Linked DNA regions of Homo sapiens. The protein of the gene in region 2 interacts with the protein of the main gene of each other region in a pairwise test. Each region holds a gene or a part of one and is shown on either strand. Other genes may lie near its edges.

The links. The genes of interacting proteins can lie anywhere in the genome.
Region 1: the proteins of DYRK3 (region 2) and ACAA2 interact in a two-hybrid assay, tested with the Homo sapiens proteins (one study listed by BioGRID).
Region 3: the proteins of DYRK3 (region 2) and PGM1 interact in a two-hybrid assay, tested with the Homo sapiens proteins (one study listed by BioGRID).

The regions. Positions count from the first base shown.
Region 1 is NC_000018.10:49,782,374-49,790,029, forward strand, and holds part of ACAA2 (3-ketoacyl-CoA thiolase, mitochondrial), read right to left. Parts: intron 4,989-7,656; coding exon 4,918-4,988; intron 2,979-4,917; coding exon 2,824-2,978; intron 1,559-2,823; coding exon 1,474-1,558; 3' UTR 1-1,473. UniProt on the Homo sapiens protein: In the production of energy from fats, this is one of the enzymes that catalyzes the last step of the mitochondrial beta-oxidation pathway, an aerobic process breaking down fatty acids into acetyl-CoA.
Region 2 is NC_000001.11:206,645,038-206,653,010, reverse strand, and holds part of DYRK3 (dual specificity tyrosine-phosphorylation-regulated kinase 3), read right to left. Parts: intron 5,624-7,973; coding exon 4,046-5,623; 3' UTR 1-4,045. UniProt on the Homo sapiens protein: Dual-specificity protein kinase that promotes disassembly of several types of membraneless organelles during mitosis, such as stress granules, nuclear speckles and pericentriolar material.
Region 3 is NC_000001.11:63,630,915-63,638,570, forward strand, and holds part of PGM1 (phosphoglucomutase-1), read left to right. Parts: intron 1-742; coding exon 743-868; intron 869-3,914; coding exon 3,915-4,105; intron 4,106-5,319; coding exon 5,320-5,474; intron 5,475-7,656. UniProt on the Homo sapiens protein: Catalyzes the reversible isomerization of alpha-D-glucose 1-phosphate to alpha-D-glucose 6-phosphate. The mechanism proceeds via the intermediate compound alpha-D-glucose 1,6-bisphosphate.

The sequences.
Region 1 (7,656 bases), on a different chromosome or scaffold from region 2:
CACTTCAGCTTTTTAATCAAATGAAGGAAACCATATAAGCAAAGGGTTGAGGAAACAGTGTAGGTACTTATGATACTATTATTTAACATCTAGTATTATTTAACATCTATTATTCAGTGAGCCATGACTGTGCCACTGCAATTCTGCCTGGGTGACAGAGCAAGATGCTATCTCAAAAAAAAAAAAAAAAGGCCGGGTGCAGTGGCTCACGCCTGTAATCCCAGCACTTCTTTGGGAGGCCGAGGCGGGTGGATCACGAGGTCAGGAGATCGAGACCATCCTGGCTAACACGGTGAAACCCCATCTCTACTAAAAATACAAAAAATTAGCCGGGCGTAGTGGCAGGCGCCTGTAGTCCCAGCTACTGGGGAGGCTGAGGCAGGAGAATGGCATGAACCCAGGAGGCGGAGCTTGCAGTAAGCTGAGATCGCGCCACTGCACTCCAGCCTGGAGGACAGAGCGAGACTCTGTCTCAAAAAAAAAAAAAAAAATTTCCCCCCAATAAATGTATAACCCATAAATTCAATTTAATCTTAATTAAAATTTCCAGTGGCTCTTTGATGAAGTTAACAAGAATAGGGCCTTGCCCTACTAGATATCCAGTCTTAGAACAGACAAATAAAGCAATGGAAGTGTTGTGGGGGCATTTTAAAGGGAGAAAATAAAGGATGAAAGATGGCCTTTAAGCTGGGAAGAAGGAAGTAAGGTTTATACACACAGCAGAATATTATTCAGCCTTTAAAAAGAAGGAAATTCTGACACATGCTACACCATAAGGTGGATGAATCTTGAGAACATTATATAAAGTAAAGTAAAATAAGCCAGTCACGAAAGGACAGATATTTATAATTTCACTTATGAGGTACCTCGAGTCATCAAATTTATAGAAACAAAATACACTGGTGGTTGTCAGGGGATGGGGGATGGGAGAATCAGGAGTTATTGTTTCCATGTGTGGTGACTGAAAAAGTTCTGTTGATAAAAAGTGGGGATGTTTGTATAAAAATGTGAATGTACTTAATACCAGTGAATTGTACGCTAAAAAAGGGTTAAGATGGTAAAGTTTATGTAATGTGTATCTTATCACAATTTAAAATTTTTAAAAATATAAATGACAGGAAAATATTAACTGAAGTTAAGGCAACATTTATTTGATTTCCTTATAATCATATTATCTAAGGCAGAAGTGGTGGTTACTTGGCAAGAATACGATTTCTTTTAATGTCTTCTATAGTTGAGTTTTAGCTCAGAAATACATCATATTTCACTGGTTCAAATCTGAGAGAATGTACTTCTAGCATGGGCTCCTATTCATGATCAATGCATTTTTGTGTCACCATGGCTTGATCAAACTTAATCACTGTTTCAATGGCAGGGCATGGCCAGTTGTGGCAGCTGCTCTGAAGGTCACTTGTTTTACTGTGGCCTGGCCAAGTAGAGTAAGGATGGGTCACAGTGAGCTCACTGGTCTCTTCAGGCTGTGCTCTGAATGATGACAGCAATACCTTGGCCACCTCCAATGCAAGCTGATCCAACGGCATATTTTCCACCTCGACGCCTGAAAAAGAAAGCAGTGACTGAAATCTACTCTAATAAAAAATCAGATTAATGAAATAGAACTAATAACATCACATCTGCATTACTCATCCTTATTCAGCTCATCTGCTCAATCTTTTCCCCAGTCCTCAATTTTGGTATAATTACAACAGGCAACAGACTTTGGAAAGCTGAAAGTTTTTAATCAAAAAAAACAAAAAACAAAGAACAAAAACAAACACCAGAAGAGGGAGGCAAACTAAAAAGGAGATGAGTGGATTTAGGGTTATAGAGTAGATTTAGGGTATATGAAACACATACAGAAGCTTGTGTGTGTTACGGGAAAGGAGTGAGAAGAGGAGGTAACTGGATAAATGGGAAGCTGGGGAAGGGGATGAACATTAAGCTCCTTTGATTTATATATTTGATTTATATAGTGTGAGAGCCTCATGGCACCTTAGAAGAAATGTAATTAATAAAGTTTGTCCCTATGAAAGGGCAGATAATTTAGAAACTATCCATGTCCCTTTCATAAAAATTAGACTCTTTTAAAGTACTCCTCACTCCTAATATGATGACTTCGAGAAAATTATCCAGGAATTACTTTTGTATGTGGCAATCACCTATTTCAACTCAGGGAATCATTAAGTGAAATAAGAGTCACATTTCCCCTGGCCTAACAGGGAGTCAGAGTAATTTTTCAGCCTGACTTACTTGGTTTTGTTTGCAATTTTTCTACAGAGCAAAATATTCCAAAAATAGAAGAGCTCCTCCTTCTGGTACTATCTATCAAAACTGAAAAGCACCAAACACCCAAAAGGTTCCTCCTGGAACCCTGCAAGCAGTGAAAAGAAAAACTTAGACCCAAATGTCAGTTTGCTTAGATTTCATAAATTATGGCATCTAGATCAGTACTCACTCAGTACTTTTTTTTTCTAAAATAGATTTATTTTACTCCTGTAACTGGCACTAAAATACAAGTGCCATGAGAAGCAGGGCCTCATTATCTGCTCATGCAGTGAACACAAGCTGAGTGGGGCACACAGTGCACAGAGACTGGACACACAGAGGAAGAGCTTGGTTCTTAAGTGCAAAGCCACTAACAAGGTGACTGACTCATCTATGAGACCAGATGAAAAGCACTGCCCAAGTAACTTGTTCCTGGTAACAGCCAGTGCAGGAGACATGAAGAAGAATGAAAAATGTTGGAGTGTTCTGGGGAAGCCTAAATCCATGCATTTCTATAAAAAACAGCAAATCTGAAATGCAGCTATTTCTAGCAAATACCTTAATTCGTGAACCAGGTGTGCAGTAATTCTTGATCCAGATCCTCCCAGTGGGTGACCCAAAGCAATGGCTCCTCCATTCACATTGGTTTTACTTATGTCAAGATCCAAACTCCTCTCAACAGCCAAGTACTGGGGAGCAAAAGCTTCATTCACCTTAAAACAAAAATTAGAGCACTAACAAAAATCCTTACTCACAAACTAATTTTTAAATGAGAATGGTCCAGTCCTATCAACAGCTAAGTCTGCTGTTTCTTCCTATTTAAATTACCTCGCAAAGTTATTTTATCTACAATCATTCTGCATAAAGCTATCAGGTTTAAAATGTGTATATTTACTAAATAATACTTTTAGTCAAATGCATCCCTTAGAGGCAATTCTCAGTAATCCCATAAATTGACACATACCAGACACAGTGGGATACTGTAGAAAGCCCACAGGTTTTAGAACTGGATGGATGGTTCAAATATTGGCTATACCATTTGTTAGGGTGTGACCTTATGCATATTCTTTAAACTCTTTAAATTCACGTTTCCGCGTGTGAAAATGTGACTGTGGTATCATGCTAAGAGTCACTGTCACAGTTAGATAAAATCATGAGTATTAAGTGTCCAGTGTGTTACCTGAAACATGGCAAGTACTCAATAAGTGGTTGCAAGTATTATTATTATTATGCAGTACTAGGAGCTATCCTTCCAAGAAGCTGACACACAACAAAGAATAAACCTTCAAAGCCACGTACATAAAGGGAACAGTTACTATGTTGAAATGTGGCAGAACTGAAAAGTATATTATGTTATACTTACACAAACTGGCAATTACCTTACTTCAAGTTTACAGTACTGTATTATCATATGATCTTAATTCAGGAATTTTATAGATAAGGAAACTCATTCTAAGAAAGGTAACTTTTGCAGAGTTGGGATAAAATTCAGTCTTGTGCTCTTTCCTACTATACTTTGTGGTCTCTCAAGATGGTGCCTCATATGTGCTTAGATCCACCATTATCTTTCTACTCTATATACAGAGCCATCTTCAAGGAGGTACTAAGAGACCTAGAATAGGTAGTGAAACTAGGCTTTTGAACCTAGGAAAACTATGGTCTGAGTTATGTCCTTGAGAATGTATACATTTCCAAATGATTATGAACAACTTCCCAAAGTTGATATAGTTTAATAGTTTTAAATGTGAGGTCTAAAGTGAGAAATTTAGTGGTACCTATTTGCTGACACAAATATAATAAATTAAACAGCCTCTTTGAGGCTCTGAACTGTGATCTGCTAAAAGTGGAAGAGATTTAAAGATAAACCATTTGTCTGAAATCATGGTTTCCTGTGTGAGAGATTATCATAGAGGAAATCACACCTGTGCCTACCCCTTCGCTATCAAGTTAAATAGATTTCCTTTGTTCTATTAGTTATTTCCCAATGCCAGGCATCACATGCTTAATCACCTAAAATTTTCAAATAAATATTCCAAAAGTGTGGAATGTATATAACCATCTTTAAATGTTTCTCCACCTCTTCTTTTAATTATGCTTAAGACACTTTAGTTCTAATACTAACATTTAAAAAGAAATCACTCAATAAATTTAAGTTCCAGTGTCAAAAATTATGATAGGTGCATCCCAAATCAAGCTACAACTATCGTATAAAAGCCAAAGATACATTTAAGGGAGGGGGCTCTATCTGGCGAGAAGGGCAAGAAACTTGTAGATTTGGCACTAAATATTGCTTTTCTATTATGTCAATTATTTTACATATATTTTTTCACTTTAATATTCAACAGGCATGTTAATAGTCTAAAATGTAACAGTTTTATAAAGTAGTAAGAAATTCCCAGGAATTTATACTTGAGTAAGAGAAATCAGGCAGTTTGAATATTCAAATATAAATAAAGCATGTTAACCAGGTGGGGAAAAGTATCAACACAAGGCATCTAATGAAGGTACTATTTATTTAGATGTACATCATTTGGAAAGGCTAACTACAATGAAATTCAAAGAGCAATGAGACCAAATTAAAGTCATTTATGCTATAAAAGTACATGGTTTATTCATGTTGTTAAAAAAAAAAAAAAAAAAAAAAACACTTACCTCTACCAAATCCATGTCCTTAAGACTCAGTCCTGCTTTCTTCAGTGCCCCACTGATAGCAGGGACAGGACCTATATAATAATAAAAATCTTCTATAAAAATATAGAAATAAATGTCATCTTATATTTACGTATCAAGCTTCTCCTTCTTTCCAAGTAAGGAAGAAATAATGCGGCAGTTATTAGTAGCCACAAATCTTACTACCTTGACCGTACCTATTAAATGAAGTGACCATAAAGAGGCAGAAAAAGGGCCCAGGCATGGTGGCTCATGCCTGTAATCTCAGTACTTTGGGAGGCTGAAGTGGGAGGATCACTTTAGCCTCCTGGGCAACACAGCAAGACCCCATCTCTAAAAAAGAAAAAAAATAATAATAAAAATAAAATGGAACCAAGGTGAAAAGTTGTTTATACATTCAAACTGCAGATAAGAGAATTACATGAAAAGTTCTACCATAAACGGCTTTAAGATTGAAAACAGCCAAAGGAGTCCATATATGGGATTTTAGTTATGTTAATAGATTATAATTGATATCAAAGAGCAAGGCAGACTGAGTGCTCTACTTGGGATCCAAGCCATATGCATTCACAGCACAGAAGTTACTGTGGCTACACTCTGAATTTTCAGGCCCATTTGGATAAAAGACAAGAAATAGCAGTATCTCCACATGGGCACAGAGAGATGGGAAACTACGAGGCACTTCAGGGAAGGTTTTATGAAGTAAGGTGATGTTTACAACTCCAAGGGTAGGCAGGAAATTTAAATAAAACATAACTCCTAATTTAAGAAATGCAACTCCATCTAATAAGACTTCTGAAATAAACTTTAGCTCCCAGATTTCTGATGATGTAATGAGAGTTTAATATTGCTCATAATTTAAATCCATATTTTTTCTCAAAAGGTAAAAAATTTGGGTAGAGAAGATTATCTACTTCTCGACTTGTTCTTAAAGAATGAAACTGCCAAAAATGTCTACAAAGAAAAATATGTAGTATGTTCTGCTGAATTCAAGTAGTCAAATATTCTGCATCAAGTTTCACAAGCATTTTACCTTATAAAATGGAAAATCAGTCTTTACAAGAAAGGCATAATGAAACCTAAATATAATATTTATTTTGTCACGTAGTTAAAATACTCTTTGGACAACAAACCACGTGCTTATTGATTAGGACTATCCAGTTAATGCACTTCAATTTAAAATGCCAGTTTCATGTGGCTACTGATTTACTACAGCTACTGATTTACTACAGGATCTGATTCCAGATTCTCTTTGTATGTCTAAAGCATGAAATCATGAAAATGAGATGGGTAGTCAGTAGTAAAGCATCAGTTATCCAGCCTGGTGAGGGGATGAAGTAGCCAACAGTGGTGACAGACACATAAAAGGTGGACAATGTTCAGACCACTGTACACACTTCCTTGTCTGCATAAACAACACAGCAAGCATGACTCGTACTTTCACTTTAACTCAGAATCCACCGTAACAATATGCTAGGCCATAACTCGATTTTTAAAGGACTCTTCCCAGACCACTGTTATTTACTGGGACTTCAGGAAGGTTTAGTATTCTTGTTAGGAAAAGGAGACCTTATTTCTAGTCCTGGTTCCTGTCACTAATAGCTGTGCGACTTTGTGCATCTCTCTGGGCAACAAGCTACTCATCAATAGCACTCTGAATGGGTTTTCCACCTTTTTCTCTTTAAGCATCAGAATTCTTTTTGCATATGATGCCAAGTAATAGATAATGCCAGACTGCTCCAGCTGAAGAGGCTCAAAGTTCCACCCACCAACCTCTACCATTGCCACCCCTGAGGAGTTCCAGGGAGTGCTGTCTTTCTATAGCTGTGTATTTCCTCAGAACCAGTACTATTCTTTTCAAGTCATGGCTTTCCCCGTTTTTTTTTGGTCTGCAGCTATTCTGCAGGGCTAAGGATTGCTAGTCATTAGGTAATCATGGAACTGAGAACCACTATTCTTGTAAGTTAGATTAACAAACCAGTTCCCACTAGATACTTAATAACTTATTCTCCCCACTTATTCATCTGGGATGCTTCAACGAGTTACTTTGTTTAATCCCATCACTATATACAAGTGACAGCCAAACTTCTAGATGAAGGGGGCAGCTGATACTGTGGGACATCTGGAATGTACAGCTCTGTTCAAGCCCCGAGGAAAAATGACAATCCTACCACAGGAGCATTCTTTGTACTTTAGGGCAAATATTCAGGCCCAGGAACAGAAGGAAGGAAAACAACGCTTTCTTGGTTCACTGGCTATGCTAATCTACCAGAACCTATTAAATAAAGTTAAACTGAAAAAGGAGTATAAAATAGCCAACCCATGTCACATACATTTGTTTGATCATCAAAAGCATCTAGGTGTATGCAGGAAAAAAACCAACTCTGCTCTTGGGCTGGGCATGGTGGCTCACGCCTGTAATCCTAGCACTTTGGGAGGCTGAGGTGGGCGGATCACCTGAGGTCAGTAGTTTGAGATCAGCCTGGCCAACGTGGAAAAACCCTGTCTCTGCTAAAAATACAAAAATTAGCCAGGCGTGGGGGCGGGCACCTGTAATCCCAGCTACTGGGAAGAATGAGGTTGCAGTGAGCTGAGATCACGCCACTGCACTCCAGCCTGGGTGACAAAGCGAGACTCTGTGTCAAAAACAAAAAACAAAACCAACTCTGCTCTTGGGCTCCACTCTGGACTTACTGAAACAAAATCTAAGGGTGTGGGGGT
Region 2 (7,973 bases):
TGACTTGGGGAATGAAATAAAAATTCTAACCCAACTCTCACCGTGTCAGAAACAACTTGGAAATTAAAATTTGTCAATTTAGAACTCAGTAAGTCACCTAACCTAACCAGTTTGACTGAAATGACTAGAAGAAAAATGGCTAAAGAACAATCCAGTAACTGAGGAAGAGACAGTCTGAATTTCTGTACTAACTCTGATCCAATTCAGTCACTCATTGCTATGGCTGGGCAGGGATCCAAGTGAAACTTTTAACAGTGGCCAATAAGGTGGCATAGAGTTACTGCCTCTAAAAACCACAACTTGTCCCTAAGCTTGAAACCCAACCATAAACTTCCTCAAATCCATGTGGACGAGCACCATGTTTTTAAGCAGCCCACTCTCCTCAAACTTGAATTGGCCTGCAGAAGACAGGTATGCCAACTTCAATGACTCTGCTCTGCATCACTCTCTCGGTTGCCAAATTGAGGCAGAAACATCCATTTGCCTTCCTGTAGCTTTCTAAAATCTGTCTACAGTGTAATGAGTTGTCTATACACTTTCCCTTAGCCCAGTTTCAGTAACCTTGTAGTCCATTCGATACACAGAAATAGAGCACGCACCAACCTCAGCCACAGGCCCCTTTCTCTCCCAAGTTCAGGCACAGTACTGGCTAGAACTCTCACTAAAAACACAAACACCAAAACACAGTGTACATCAGATGCATATGGGGTAGTAATGCTTTTAACAGTTTGCTTACAGGAGCAGTTCTTCAACACTGATAACAACTGGCAAAACAACCTCAACATATGCTCTGCCTAGATAATGCAGGAGATCCTTAAATTTCTCCAAGTTAGAAAATTCAGGACAACAGCAATATGGTGTTAGAGACTTCAGATCTGTGTCAATCAGATATAGCCTTGCTGCCACCTAAAGATGTGCTCGCCACCCCACACATGGCTTTAGCAGCAGTTCCAAAGGCCAATGCATTCACTCTTGGAAGACAGTGTCAGCTGTCTTGACACTGCTGCTGGCTACATTTAACCAACTCTATGATGTGGTACCAGAGCCCAAGAAATACATCAAGCCAGATCATTCTGTCCAAACATCCCAAGGAAACATGTGCCTTGGACAGCACCTGAGTGGGAACAGGCTGCTAATGTTGATATAAAATGCAAAATAGTAAAAGTAGCATTTTCTCTAATTTACTATTCAGTGAGAAACCCATGCAGAAATCCAATGCAGCAAATTGTAGAGGTTCAATGCTCCCTGATCTGCAGTTAAGCCAGGTGTGCCACCTCCTTCATCTGACTTGGATCCTGCTCTGGACTTCAAGGAAACATCTACCTGGCTAGCAGTTCAAGGACTCGATATAAAAATAACTCATGCTTTGTTTCAACTGGAGGGTCATGACACTGTTGGGCCTACAGGAAAACCATTCATAAGTCAATGTAAGCTCATATCTACTGAAAGAGTAGATTTGAGTTTTTTGAGTAGATATGAGCTTTTACACCCTAAGTTACAATGAAAAGATTCACTGAAGAAGGATTCAATCATGCTGTACTACTTCCTGGAGTTGGCAGAGAAATCATCCATTTCTTGGTAGTTGAAAGAAGGCTGATCCAAGAACACAGTGAAGAGATGTTCCCATTTCTCAAGGTGTTTCATCTTCCTGGCCATGATGATTTAGCACCTGCAAAATTCCCAAACCTACGCAATGTGGTTAATGCGGGGAAGCAGACATTGGACTACCAACTTCCAAAGAGTCACTATCTCGACTAGCAGATCATGAGGTAGATGAGGCAGTTTCAAGACCTCCCTTGAAGAAGGCAGTGATGAATAAAGAAGAGGAGGATGGGTTATGAGCAGCATTTAGTGTGACATCTGAAGAGATCAAGATGCCACTATCAGACAAGAAAACCAATAACCAGACTAATTTCACACAGCTTCTTCAGGCAATGGAATCAAGAGATAGGATGCAGACTTAGAAAAAAAGAAAGAAAATTCAGCAGGAGTTAGAGGGATCTAAAGGAGTTGTATATTTATTGCCTTCTGTAAACCAGGAGTAAAGGAGATAATTAAGGTTTTAAATAATCCAGTTTCTTAGTCACCAAAAGTACCAAGACTTCCTCCTATTAATGAGGCTGAAGGCTCAGTTTAAGCTGTTCTCTGCCATCTGGCCCTTGTACTTGGGAGACTAAAGCCACTGTGGACATTTAAATGAGAGAGATTTGCACTCTCTCATTTTTCACAGCCTATGCTACAGCAATCATGACTACTTTTGGATAAAACAAAAGTTCCTTAAATAATATACTCATGGCATTTTTATTTTCTTTTCTTGTTCCTACACTGCCCAACAAAAAGAGTCTCTTCCAATGTCATTGAGTTTGCACCACATTCTAGAATAATAAATGGAACTGGATCATTCTGAGAACTATATTGTAAAAAGCAAATATTCTACTTTAAAGAACACACTTTTTTTGGTTTGTTTTTTAGACAGAGTCTCACTCTGTTGCCTAGGCTGGAGTGCAGTGGCATGATCTCAGCTCAAGTGATCCTCCCACCTCAGCCTCCCAAGTAGCTGGGATTACAGGCATGTGCCACTAGGCCTGGCTAATTTTTGTATTTTTTGTAGAGGCAGGGTTTCACCATGTTGCCCAGGCTGGTCTTGAACTCCTGGGCTCAAGGAATCCACCCACCTCAGCCTCCCAAAGTGCTGGGATTACAGGCATGAGCCACTAATACCCAGCCAAGAGCACACATTTAGGATAGAACTTGAGCATACTTTTGTTCTGGAAGAGGACAGAAATAGAGCAAGGGACAGGAAACAACAAACAAAACCCAGTAGCAGTGAGTTAGCTTCTGTCCCGTCTCCACCCTTGTAAGTAGGACACTGGCTTAACAATTAGTTTTATTATCAGCCCTCACTGTTTAAATCTTAGCAGAGAAAAAGAAAAGCTGTTGAAGAGAATAAAATTAAGAAACATAAAAAGGGAAAACTTGATTATCACCAGTTTCTGGATTTTTAGTTTTCTTCTTCTAACTGAAGTTCACTCAGATCTAGGGAATAGCATTAAGCTTAACGTGAAAGTGGGGGGAAAAATGTGGCACATTGAAGTGGCAGGTAGCTGTAAAGAGAAGAGGGAAGCATTTTTAAACTGTAGTAAGGTTTATCCGAGAGTGATTACTTTTATAAGGAAGAGATTCTATGAAAATGCAGCAAGGAGGCTGGTCCGTGGAGTACCACAAAGCTGGGGAACTGCAGTTTTCATGCTGATTCTCTATCTTTACCACTCTGGGTCAATTGTGGCAGAGAAGCTGTTTTATCTTCCTTGGGCATGGGAGAGGAAAGGAGGAGGGATGCATATGACTCAGTTTTTAAATCAGTACCTTACAGGGTTATTTAGTAAAGTGGTAAGGCTTCTGTAAAATGCTTTGAGTGACTAGGAAACAAATCAGAGGCAAAATAACAACATAAAATAATAACACCAAACATCAGAGAACTGAAGGGAAGAGGAGCGAGTCACTGAAAACCAGGGACACCAGTTGTCCAGGTCACCAACAGCTTCCTGGTGCTCCCCCACCCCACAGTCTGCTGTGAGCTCTTTCACCTAGAATGAGCCTAGAGAATGGCCTAGTGGGGCAAGGGACCTAGCACTGGCTCTCAGCCACAACTAACACCACATCCCAAATTACCCCTCCAGAACAGATGCCGAGGGACACTAGAAGCGAGGAGTAGTTGGGATACTTTTGCTACACCTTCTATCTTGAGAGAAAGAGATTTAAACCAATAGTATAATACATCAGTTGAAATACATCTGACGATAATAACAAAGATGCATTGACCTATAAAAAGTCATTTAATGCATATTCCAGATGGCCAATACAAGCTGGTTAGGTAATTAGCCCTTGAAGAATTCTTTTATAATCATATAAAAATGTTTTGTCTTGTTTAAAAAAAGTCTACTCTAACAAAAACATCCACCAATGGGCTTGCATTTTTTCCATTTGCAGGTTTGTAAGATCATAAAAATATACACATATGCATCTCTGGGCATATCTCTGTCCACTAGCTAATCAGTTTTGGCAATACACTGCATAGGGGTATACTACCATTGGTTTCTGACATTAAGTTAGCTTTAAGCTTATTGGCTATTCCAACAACTGGAGGCAGCTTAGAACCCAATCCCTGGAAAGCACTTGCAGGATTAACTACCCGTTTCCCTGACACCTTGTCTATGGTGGTGAGAGGTCTGGGGACAGACTTGCTAATCCAAGGGTGTCTTAATGCTTGAGCTGGGGTCAAGCGGGCAGAGGGGTCCCAGTGAAGACACCTTTTCAAGAACTCTATAAACAAGTAGTCATCACACCCTTTCAGTGCTGTCCCCCAGTCTTTGCTGCCTGGGGGACCCCGCTTTTTACCCCTACGTGAGCGACCCCCCACAAGCACAACCCTCCCATCTGCCTGGGTAGTCACAGAGCAGTAGCGGGGTATGCCCTTGGAATTAATAAAGTACTTGGCACGTTTGGATTGCTCCAGAAGTTTTGGTGGTGGCATCCCTAGAAGCTCCATCATGCAGGCCAACTGGTCTCCTTCATCCTCTCCAGGGAAGAGAGGCTGTCCTGTTAAAAGTTCTGCAAGGATGCAGCCAAAACTCCATATGTCAATTGGTGTGCTGTAGCGGCTTCCTAAGATGATTTCTGGAGCTCTGTAGAACCGAGACTGGATATATGTGTAGAGCTTCTGGTACTCGAAACAGCTGGACCCAAAGTCAATGACCTTGGTTGAACTGCGCCCGTGGTGTTTCAGGAGAATGTTTTCTGGCTTCAGATCGCAGTGAATAATCTTATTTTTGTGGAGGGCATCCAAAGATTGCAAGATGGACTGGGCAAACTTGCGTACCAACTGGACGCTAAAACCCTGAAACTTATTTTTTTTAATCAGCTCATAAAGGTCTATGCTCAGCAATTCAAAGGCCATGCAAACATGGTTCCGGAATGTGAAACTTTCCAGCATGTGGATAACGTTCATACTACCAGTTTTATCCTGTTTCTTAAGATGCTCCAAAATCCGGATCTCCTCAGCTGCTTGACGATGAAAGCGCTTCTCATTGCGCACCATTTTTAGGGCCACGTACTGTCGAAGTTTGTGATCATAGACCCTGGCCACCTGCCCAAAACTCCCCTTGCCAATAATTTTCAGCACCTCATATCGATAAGCTAGATGGTCTCGAGGTACATGAATATAGGCCCCATCTGCATCATCATACCCTCCATTATTGGGACCACCAATAACTCCATGTCTTTTCTTGGCATTTGGACCTACAAAGTAAATTTCTGGATAATTAATTATTTCCAGTTTCTCATAGGCAGTGAGGTGGTGTTTATATTGCTTCAGGGCTTGTTCTGGAGTCAGAGGCACCACTTTGGGTGCCTTGGATGAACTGTTGGATTTTACTGTATTCAAGCAATCTGAACTTTTACCCTGAGAAACAGTAGGAGAGCATTTTTCAGAGTCACTGATGCCATCTGACTGAATAGTATTGGATTTTCTGTTGCCAAATTCTTGAAACAGCTGTTCTACCTTCATCTCACCTCCATCCAAAAAGTGCTGAGTATGATCTCCTGTAAACTGCTCAGTGGTCATCTATGAAAGAGAAAATGAATATAAGTCATTAAAAACATTAGAAAGATGGAAGAATCCTCCCTCCTCCAACTGAATAACAACAAAACATGTCCAGTCATGTTTACTTTAAGGTTAAAATGACCCAAAAAGAAGATAAGAAAAGCAAGAGTCTCTAGCAACTTGTGTTATATTAATTTTCAGACTCCCTGAATATTGCGGCCATCCCTAACCCCCATACATGCCTTGCTTTGTTCAAGACAAGATGATCTTACCATGCCCCCCACATGCCAGGTTCCTTCTTACAGATGTGTCCTTGTACTGAGAATCCTTCCACCCCCTCATCCCCTCGACTCCTACATTCCTTCAAAGCCCAGTTTAATTCCTCTCTCTTCCACTTAGAACTATGCCAAGCCCATACTAATTAATCTTATATCCTAACTGCAGCTTCTCCAGTTTGTGCCACATAATTTGGTACTTGATTATGTATAATATATGCACTACCTTACACTGTTTACTAATTGTTTCAAGTATCTTCCCAAATATTAAGGACATATAGCATGATGAAAATAATGCATACTGAAGTGTAAACAAGAAGGTACTATCAAGTGACAGAAGCAGAATTTGAACCAGAATAGGTCTTCTGGCTCCTATTCAAGGGCCCTTGCCATTAACATAACTCAGCACCAGGTTCTCCCAGCACCTGTAGACTAGCAGGGCTGAATGTTGACTATGGCCTGGAATCAACAACGTGCTCAATCATCTACTCCCAGGTCCCCATATAAATTACTGTAGCCTTTTAACTCAGTTCATTGAATCACAAAAGCTCTAAGTTAAAGAGAACTTTTGAGATCATCTGGACCAATTCTTCAAGTACCTGATAACAGTGAGGGTCCAAGGTCCCTGGGGTACTTATAAAACTCTTCCCTAGCAAGAGCCTACTTGATAAAGGAGTACTACTCCTTTCACCAGGTTTTCCACAATCTTCTCCTGGAAGGGATACTGACCCACAGAAAAAAGCTCTACTTACACCTCTGAATTAAGATTCTTTGAACTGAAACAAGGTTTTTTGAAATAAGATGGAGGAAAAGAAGGACAAAAACAACCAAACACCTAAGTAAAATTAATATTAATTAATTACTATTACAAAAAAAGGGTAACTATGTGAGATGATAGATACATTTAATTGGCTTGACTGTAGTAACCATTTCACTATGTGTATCAAAACATCATACTGGACACCTTAAAAAATAAAATTTTTTGGCCACGTGTGGTGTCTCACGCCTGTAATCCCAGCACTCTGGGAGGCCAAGGCAGGTGGATCACTTGAGGTTAGAAGTTCGATACCAGCTTGGCCAACATGGTGAAACTCTGTCTCTACTAAAAATACAAAAATTAGCTGGGCATGATGGTGCACACCTGTAATCCCAGTTACTTGGGAGGCTGAGGCAGGAGAATTGCTTGAACCCAGGAGGTGGAGGTTGCAGTGAGCCAAATCATGCCACTGCACTCCAGCCTGAGCGACAGAGTGAGACTCCGTCTCAAAAAAATAAATCAATAAAATAAAAAATAAAATAAAAACTTTGGCCAGGTATGGTGGTTCATCCCTGTAACCCCAGAACTTTGGGAGGCCAAGACGGGCAGATCACTTGAGGCCAGAAGTTTGAGACCAGGCTGGCCAACATGGCAAAACCCCACCTCTACTAAAAATACAAAAAAAAAAAAAAAAGCCAGATGTGATGCATGGATGCATGCCTGTAATCCCAGCTACTTGGGAGGCTGAGGCAGGAGAATCGCTTGAACCTGGGAAGTGGAGGCTACAGTGAGCCAAGATCACGCTACTGCATTCCAGCCTTGGCAACAGAGTGAGAGACTGTCTCAAAAAAATAAAATAAAAAAAGAAATAAGTGAAAAATACTAAGAAGGGGCTGGAAAGATAAAAATGTTAAATCTGTTCTTAAAAATAAAAGGAAGTCTAGGATAAATAAAAGGAAGTCTAGGATACTTAAAAGAACAACTGTTTTTCTCAATGGACCCTGAAGAATTATGTCCTTTATCTGTTTGATAATTTCAGAGAGCCTGTAGTAAGAGGAACAGATTAATTCCGGAGGAGCTCTGGGCTACAGTTATAATCTCTAAAAATGTAAGCTAAAAAGTAGTCAAACCTTTAAAAACTAGAAATTTTAATATAACCTAAGCAAAACAAAAATTGTATTTATAAATTACCAAAAATAAATAACAAAAAACAATATTAAAAAACATAAATGACAAAAATTTAAGTGTTGGCATACCTCAGACAGCCCCCGTAATTCAGTTATAAAAGTCCTGCTTGCTCCTTTTTAAAAGTCATTTAATCAATTTAAATATTTATAGA
Region 3 (7,656 bases), about 140 Mb from region 2:
CTGACAATTGCATCCTAACAAAGATAAAGTGACACTTTGGTCATCTCGAAGACATTCTTGAGGTTCAGAAGATTCCAGTAGGGAGTTTCTTAAATTCTTCATATTTTGAAAATGTTCAGAACCCCTGAATATCCAGCAGTTTTGAAAATGTTCAGAAGCCTTGAACATCCAACAAGAACAACAATACTAAGTTCTTATATTTATATAAGTTTTATTTTTGTTTTATTCCTTAAGCAGTACCTGTGAAAAGTGATTCATTAAAAAATTTCATTTTCCACTTAGTACCATTAAGTCTTGATGACAATGGACTTGGAAAAAGAAAAGGAAAGAAAAGTGGGGATTACATTTTCTACTCTCTATAACACCAAAACACACCTCTCAAGATGACGAATGGGGAAGCACTGTGGTGGCATAGCAGAATTTATACAACCTCTGTTGAAAATCCCCTGTGTGCCTCATCCAAGCTGTGTGGGCAAGTTTCTTAACCCTTCACACGTCGAGTTTCCTCATCTATCAAATAGGACTAATAACATTTACCTCTCAGGAAAATTGTTAGTATTGGGTAAGGATTGGTAGTATTAGATAGTATCGGATATCACTTAACAGCCGTATTATTGGAGCTGTTCAATAATTGTCCTTTTAAAATAGCAATAGCAGGTTTACAGCAATATAGTCACATCAGAATATAATATTTCTAAATGTGTTTAATCCTTCCATCTTTTGATGTTGCTTGTTCTCACAGTGGAAATTGTGGATTCGGTAGAAGCTTATGCTACAATGCTGAGAAGCATCTTTGATTTCAGTGCACTGAAAGAACTACTTTCTGGGCCAAACCGACTGAAGATCCGTATTGATGCTATGCATGGAGGTATACAATCATTTCTTTTCAATTCCCATCTCTTGAGGATAGGAAGTTGCCCTCTTCTGTGTGTATCATGATGCTTCAACAAGCCTTTTCTCAAGTCTCTCTGATGGTTTTTAAATAGAGTTATTTTGCAACCAGAGCAATATTCACACAGATAAAAATCTAATTGTATGTAGCAAAAATAGTAGAGACACTCCTCGTGGTAAGCTCGTGTGAAGGTCAGTGTTTCCACCTTAAGCATCAGGTTCTGAGTAACATGCAACTGCTGTTGTGGACTCTCCCTCCCCCTCAGAAGATACCTTACATTCTTGCTGCATGCCCCCATGTATTTCTGAGAGGACGGTCATTTGGGAGATGTGATAAACATACTCCTGAGCCCCACACCCCCACTCACCTGCCCCCAAATGCTCGTTTTCTTAGAAGAGGGCAAGAGCAAGCTGAGGATTAAATTCAGGAGCAACATGATGTGTACAGCCCTCTCTTCTTCCTCCGTGGGTTGTGTGGTCAGGTCCATAGAGAGGGCAGCTATCACTGTGAACCAGAACCACGAGGGTTTTCTCAGACATGTAGGTATATGAGAATCCCTGAAACCTATACACATACATCTGCCTGGTTGGAGAAGCCTTTCTGCCTGCAACTGAACCCTTTTAGTGATGCAATTCGGGGATTCCTGTGACACTGCAAACCACAGAAAGTCTTCTGCTGGTGAACTAAAACCTTCCATCCTTGAAACTTCTCCCCTTGGGTCCTAGCTGGCCTCTGGACTCCCATAGAATGGATCTACTTCCTTACTCAGACAAAAGCGATTCTGTCATTTTAAACCATTCAACAGATGTGTATTGCATACCTGCAAAATGCATGCCTGGGGAATAGGCAGGAACTGGGCAGATTACTTTCTTCAAAGAATGTGCAATGTTTGGGGAGACGAAGTGGGTAAAAAACTAACCCCGGGGTCGGGCGCGGTGGCTCACACCTGTAATCCCAACACTTTGAGAGGCCAAGGCAGGTGGATCATGGGGTCAGGAGTTCAAGACCAGCCTGACCAACATGGTGAAACCCCATCTCTATAAAAGTCTCTATAAAAATACAAAAAATTAGTCGGGTGTGGTGGCACATGCCTGTAATCGCAGCTACTCAGGAGGCTGAGGCAGGAGACTAGCTTGAATCCGGAAGGCGGAAGTTGTAGTGAGCGGAGATCACACCACTGCCCCCCAGCCTGGGCGACAAAGCAAGACTCCGTCTCAAAAAAACAAAAAATCCCTAAAAAACTAACTCCTGCCAGGCCAACAAAATGAGAGTTGGAATTTCAAGTATTCTCTTTGGGGTTGGAAGAAGGCATAATTTGACTAGGTATAAAGAAAGGTTTCCTGGAAGAAGTGGCATCCAACTCAGTTCTTATGAAAGAAAGATCTAGAGTGATGAAAAATCAAGCAATGGTCATTCTCATGGAGTCGGTGGCTGTGGCAAAGGCATGAAGGCTTAAAAATGGATGTCACATTAGGGAAACGAGAGGCCTGGGCTGGCTGGATAATGGGGCATGTGAGGAGGGCATTGGGTAAGAGGAGCTTCTCCGGAAGAAGACTACTTTTCTCCAGGTCTTTTGGCTGTTCCTCTAATGCTTTCGTTTCTATATCCCTCACAGCCCTGGCTGCCTTGACCTCATTCTGTGGTGTGTCAGTAACCTGCTTAATAGGTGATGCCTCATAGGACACATTTATTCTACAGTGTTATGACCTCTGGGGCATGTACTGTATTGGGATTAGTACCATCCTTGATGAAAATACTCTCTCAGCATTTCAGAGATGCGTGTTCTTGGTAGTTATATAAAATGTCACTGTAAACATATGTAACTGGCTTCTCCTGTTGTTTGTTTTTGGTGGTGGGTTTTTTATTTTCTTTTTTTTTTGAGACGGAGTCTTGCCCTGTTGCCCAGGCTGGAGTGCAGTGGTGCAATCTCAGCTCACTGTAACCTCCGCCTCCGAAGTTCAAGCGATTCTCCTGCCTCAGCCTCCTGAGTAGCTGGGATTACAGGCGCCCGCCACCAGGCCTGGCAAATCTTTGTGTATGCATGTGTGTGTCTGTGTCTCTGTGTGTGTGTGTGTGTGTGTGTGTGTGTGTGTGTGTGTGTGTGTGTGTGTGTATATATATATATATTTTTTTTTTTTTTTTTTTTTTTTTTTTTAGTAGAGACAGGGTCTCACCATGTTGGCTGGGCTGGTCTCAAACTCCTGACCTCATGTGATCTGTCTGCCTCAGCCTCCCAAAGTACTGAAATTACAGGTGTGAGCCACCGTACCTGGCCTGTTTGTGTTTTTTTAATCAGTTTGTCAGCTAGCTTGTCATAATATAAAGATAACAGCTCTGAATCCCAATTCCCACTTTTCCTAGCCATGTAAGTTTGGGCAAATGTCTTTACCTCAGAACACCAACATTCCAATGTATCTGTAAACTGCAGGTGATAATCATAATATAAACATTTATAACATATCTGCCAGGTACTATTCTCAGTACTTCATAGCTATTAACTCATTTAATCCTTACATCAATCCTGTTAAGTAGTTAGCATTACTACCCTCATTTTGCAGATGGAAGAGACTGAGGCACAGAGAGTTTAAATAACTTTCCCAAAATTATTATACAGCCAATGACTGGCAGAGCTGGGATTTGAACCCAGACACTCTGATTCCAGAGTCCAGGCTCTTAAGCTCTAAGCTGTACAACCTTCTGAGCTTTTCTGAAGGACTGAATGGGAAAGCACAGGTATACCGCAGGGCCTTTATAATGGTTGGTTTCCTTTCCTTTCCCCACTCTGCCCTTCATGAACTGGCCCCACCTTTTCCAACATAATCTCTCATTGTTCCTTTTTAGAGAACATTCTTCTCCAGTCAGGCGTATCTCTCCACTAGTCCCTGAACACATTTCACACATTCCTGTTGTTTCTCATGCCATTCTTCTCCCCAGAATGCATCCACCTCACCCCTGAATCCTCACATACTTTAAGGAGTTTTATTTTCTGATTCTGCATACATTTATTCCATGCTGTATATAGTTGTGGGACCGTATGTAAAGAAGATCCTCTGTGAAGAACTCGGTGCCCCTGCGAACTCGGCAGTTAACTGCGTTCCTCTGGAGGACTTTGGAGGCCACCACCCTGACCCCAACCTCACCTATGCAGCTGACCTGGTGGAGACCATGAAGTCAGGAGAGCATGATTTTGGGGCTGCCTTTGATGGAGATGGGGTGGGTATAAGTGCATTTAAGTGAACTCTGGTGCAGGCCAGGCCTGATCCTGCAGATGGGGAAAAAAGTGGGCTGCTTCTGCCAGACCCAGGGAATAACTGTTAAGGATCCCTCATTCTGACCCGAGGTCAGAACTAAATTATTAGAAGCCCCTCTTGAACAGGAATAGGAGTCATTGAAATGAAACCCACACATTTAATTTCAGACATCCATACTTGCTAACAATGGCACGATGATTAGGTTCTGATTATGATAGAATGACTGGTATTTCCTGAGCTGGGTGAGTTCTAGATGCCTGTCTTAAGGTGGGTTTCTGCTCTCAACCAGCAGCTGGCTACTTATTTAATCTCTGGACAAGATTTTGGTCTTATAATACACCCATTCATTCATTCACATGAGCTGAATATTGAAGCTGTAATTTCATTGCCTATATGAAGATGATATTGAGAGAATTAACATTTTAATCATTCTCTACCATTAAAATGTTTAGAAATAAGCTGTTTTATTTACAAGGGTGACTATGTACCAGACAAGGAAGAGATGTGTCTTAGGTTTATATCCCTGGTATCTCACTGATGGTAGGCACTGTATACATTTACTTAGTTGAAAATATATTTTTGTTGTTGCTAGTGTTACCATTAGCTAGAATCCACTGTTTCCTGAAAAATGATTTTTCCCTTATCAAAATGTTGGGAAATTAAAGGGGTTCCAGCAGACATTATTCTGTAGTACATCTTTGTGATGAGTGCATTCTGGGAGTGTTTTTTGGCCACCCTCCCAGTTACTGTGGTACACAGACTGTGGTACACAGTTTACCCAGTAGACCTACCAAACTATGTAAACAGCCAATATTTCTTCTCTCATTGCATTTTCCCCTCCCCTGGGAAAAAGATGATTGGTTCCAGAGTCTGAAAAAAGTCTAGGAGGTTAAAGTTAGCTGGCCTCTGGAGGGAGAACAGAGGACTCAGCTCAAAAGGAGGTTGTGCTTGGACTTTAATTGAAAACAGTTTTAACTTTTTGGCATGGAGGTGCCTTCGGCCCAATGGTACTGTATAAACTCATTGAAAATAAAACCCAGTGTTAAAAATGCAGTATGGAAAGGAGATCAATTTCAAATTTTATAGTTTTACATTTTATAAAACCCCCATGAAAGATAGTTTGATTTCTTATAGTTTGATTAAAAGGTCTTTCTTTGATCCTCTCTTCTCCCCAAGGATCGAAACATGATTCTGGGCAAGCATGGGTTCTTTGTGAACCCTTCAGACTCTGTGGCTGTCATTGCTGCCAACATCTTCAGCATTCCGTATTTCCAGCAGACTGGGGTCCGCGGCTTTGCACGGAGCATGCCCACGAGTGGTGCTCTGGACCGGTAGGTGTCTCCATTCCCTTGGCCTTCCTGTCTTAGGTCGTCCCAGTCTTCACCATACCCTTCACTGTGCCTGGAACACGTGTCCTTCCCTTTCAGCATGGGCATCTGATGCATAGAGTGTGCTGAGCGATTCTTGTGTGAGGGGATGGTTGGCTTTTTCTGGATTCAATGCCCCTCTCCGCACTCCCTTGGCACCCTGGGCCTCCTCCTCCTGGCACTTACCACACTGTGTTCTAGTAGCTGTTTTCTTGATGGGCTGCCCTGCTAGACTGTATACTTCTGCAGAGAAAGGACTGTTTTGTTCACCATCTGGACTCTGCCTGACCATAGCGTGCCTGGCACATAGTAGGACAAACACACACACACACATACACGTATAATTTTTTAAAGTTAATGAATAGTTGAGTGTTAATGAATAACAATGGAAGTACTCAAGACATCATTCTGGAGGATCACTTTTCTTTTGCAGTGTGCACAGAGTGTGGGTGAAAGAGCAGTTTGAAGTAATTTTAGAGTTTCAACGACTGGATCGCTCTTGCCCACACAAACACAGTGAATGTTTATATATCACTTCATTGTACAAAGGCTTTGAGGTGGCTTGTTAGATCACACTTAAAAAGTTGAAAAATGAAAGTCATAACAGATGAGGACCAGGGAAAACATTAGTTAGAATATGTCAGGTGTGCAGGAAATGTTTGATGAATAAAAGGTAAAGAATGAATGAATGAATAAAAGGTCAAGGCCAGGGAGGAAAGTAGGCTGTAATATATCTCTAGGCTCTTATAATAATAGCTGATATTTATTGAACATTACTTTGTTGTAGACACTAAATATTTTGCATGTTTTAATTCATTTACTTCTCAGATGAACCCCATGAGGTAAATGCTGTATTTAACACCATTTTTCTGGTGGGAAAACCAAAGGACGAAGAAGTAACTTACCTGAGGTCACCCAGCTGGTAAATGGCTGACTCAGGATTTGAACCCAGAGCCTTTGCTCCCACTCACTGGGCCATGCAGTTGTTTTCTGTAGAGGGGAGATGGTTATAGAATTGGTGCTGACTTTGCTTCAGCTAACAAGAAAATAGCCACTAATATCCATATAGTGGTTTGTAGTTTGTATAGTGTTTTTTTACATTCACCATCTCAATTGATCCTCACAGCAGACCTCATTTTAAGGAAGAGGAAATGGAAAGTCAGGGAAGTTAGCAGTCTTGTCCAAGATCTCACCACCAAATTAGAGCTAGCATTTGAGCCCAGCACGTCTACCATCAGGTCCTGCATTTGAAATTATGAGCTGGTTTGAGGTCACACTATCATATGTTAGGCCTGTCAGGTCCTGGAATACCTTCTATGTCATCCAAGAACAGTGTAATTCCAATTTTTGGAAAAATTGATAATCCACATATAGAATCACAATTGAAGTACCTCATTACCCAGATAAAAGTTTATTGTACTTTCATAGTTTTCAAAATCATAGATTTGATTTTTCCTCAAATATCAGAATGCAAAGCTGACATTGCTTTCCTGGAAATAAGGCAAACATTCTGGGAAGCAAATCTCGCTCAAACAGTGAATGGAACTTATCAGGTAACTTTTCATGTTCAAAGGGAAAGGAATTTTTTTTTAAGTCACTCAGAGGTTTTAAATAGTTTAAAGATACCTAGAGAGAAATAAAAGACGTGTTAGAAGGGAAGGGGAACCACTAATCAGTGTGGGTGAAGCCAGTACTTAGGGGAGACCCCACTGGGCGTTTCCCCTGGGGAGACTTCTGATGAGACAAAAGCAGCACTGACCAGAGAGCTGAATACTGGGCGGTCGGTCATCCTGGCTTTGTGACCTTTGTCTGATCACATAACATTCTGGGCCCTGTTTCCTTCTCTGTAAAATGCTAACTGCCCAGACCCAGTATGTCATGATTCTGTGATTACAGGTGCATCAAAACATCATTCTTCTCTTCTTTATAGATTGATTATAGATGCAGTCTGTATCCAAAATGTGGATTTAAATAGCTTAAACAGCAGCCCTGAACATTTTACTACGGATGCTTCTTCTAAAATATTAAACTCCATGATCTGAATTAATTCTTTCTTCTTCCGCCTTCTCTGAATCCACATATAATAGCCCATTGTGCACAAGGTTTCTCTTATGATTTTCCACCAATCTTAGAATTATGTATGACT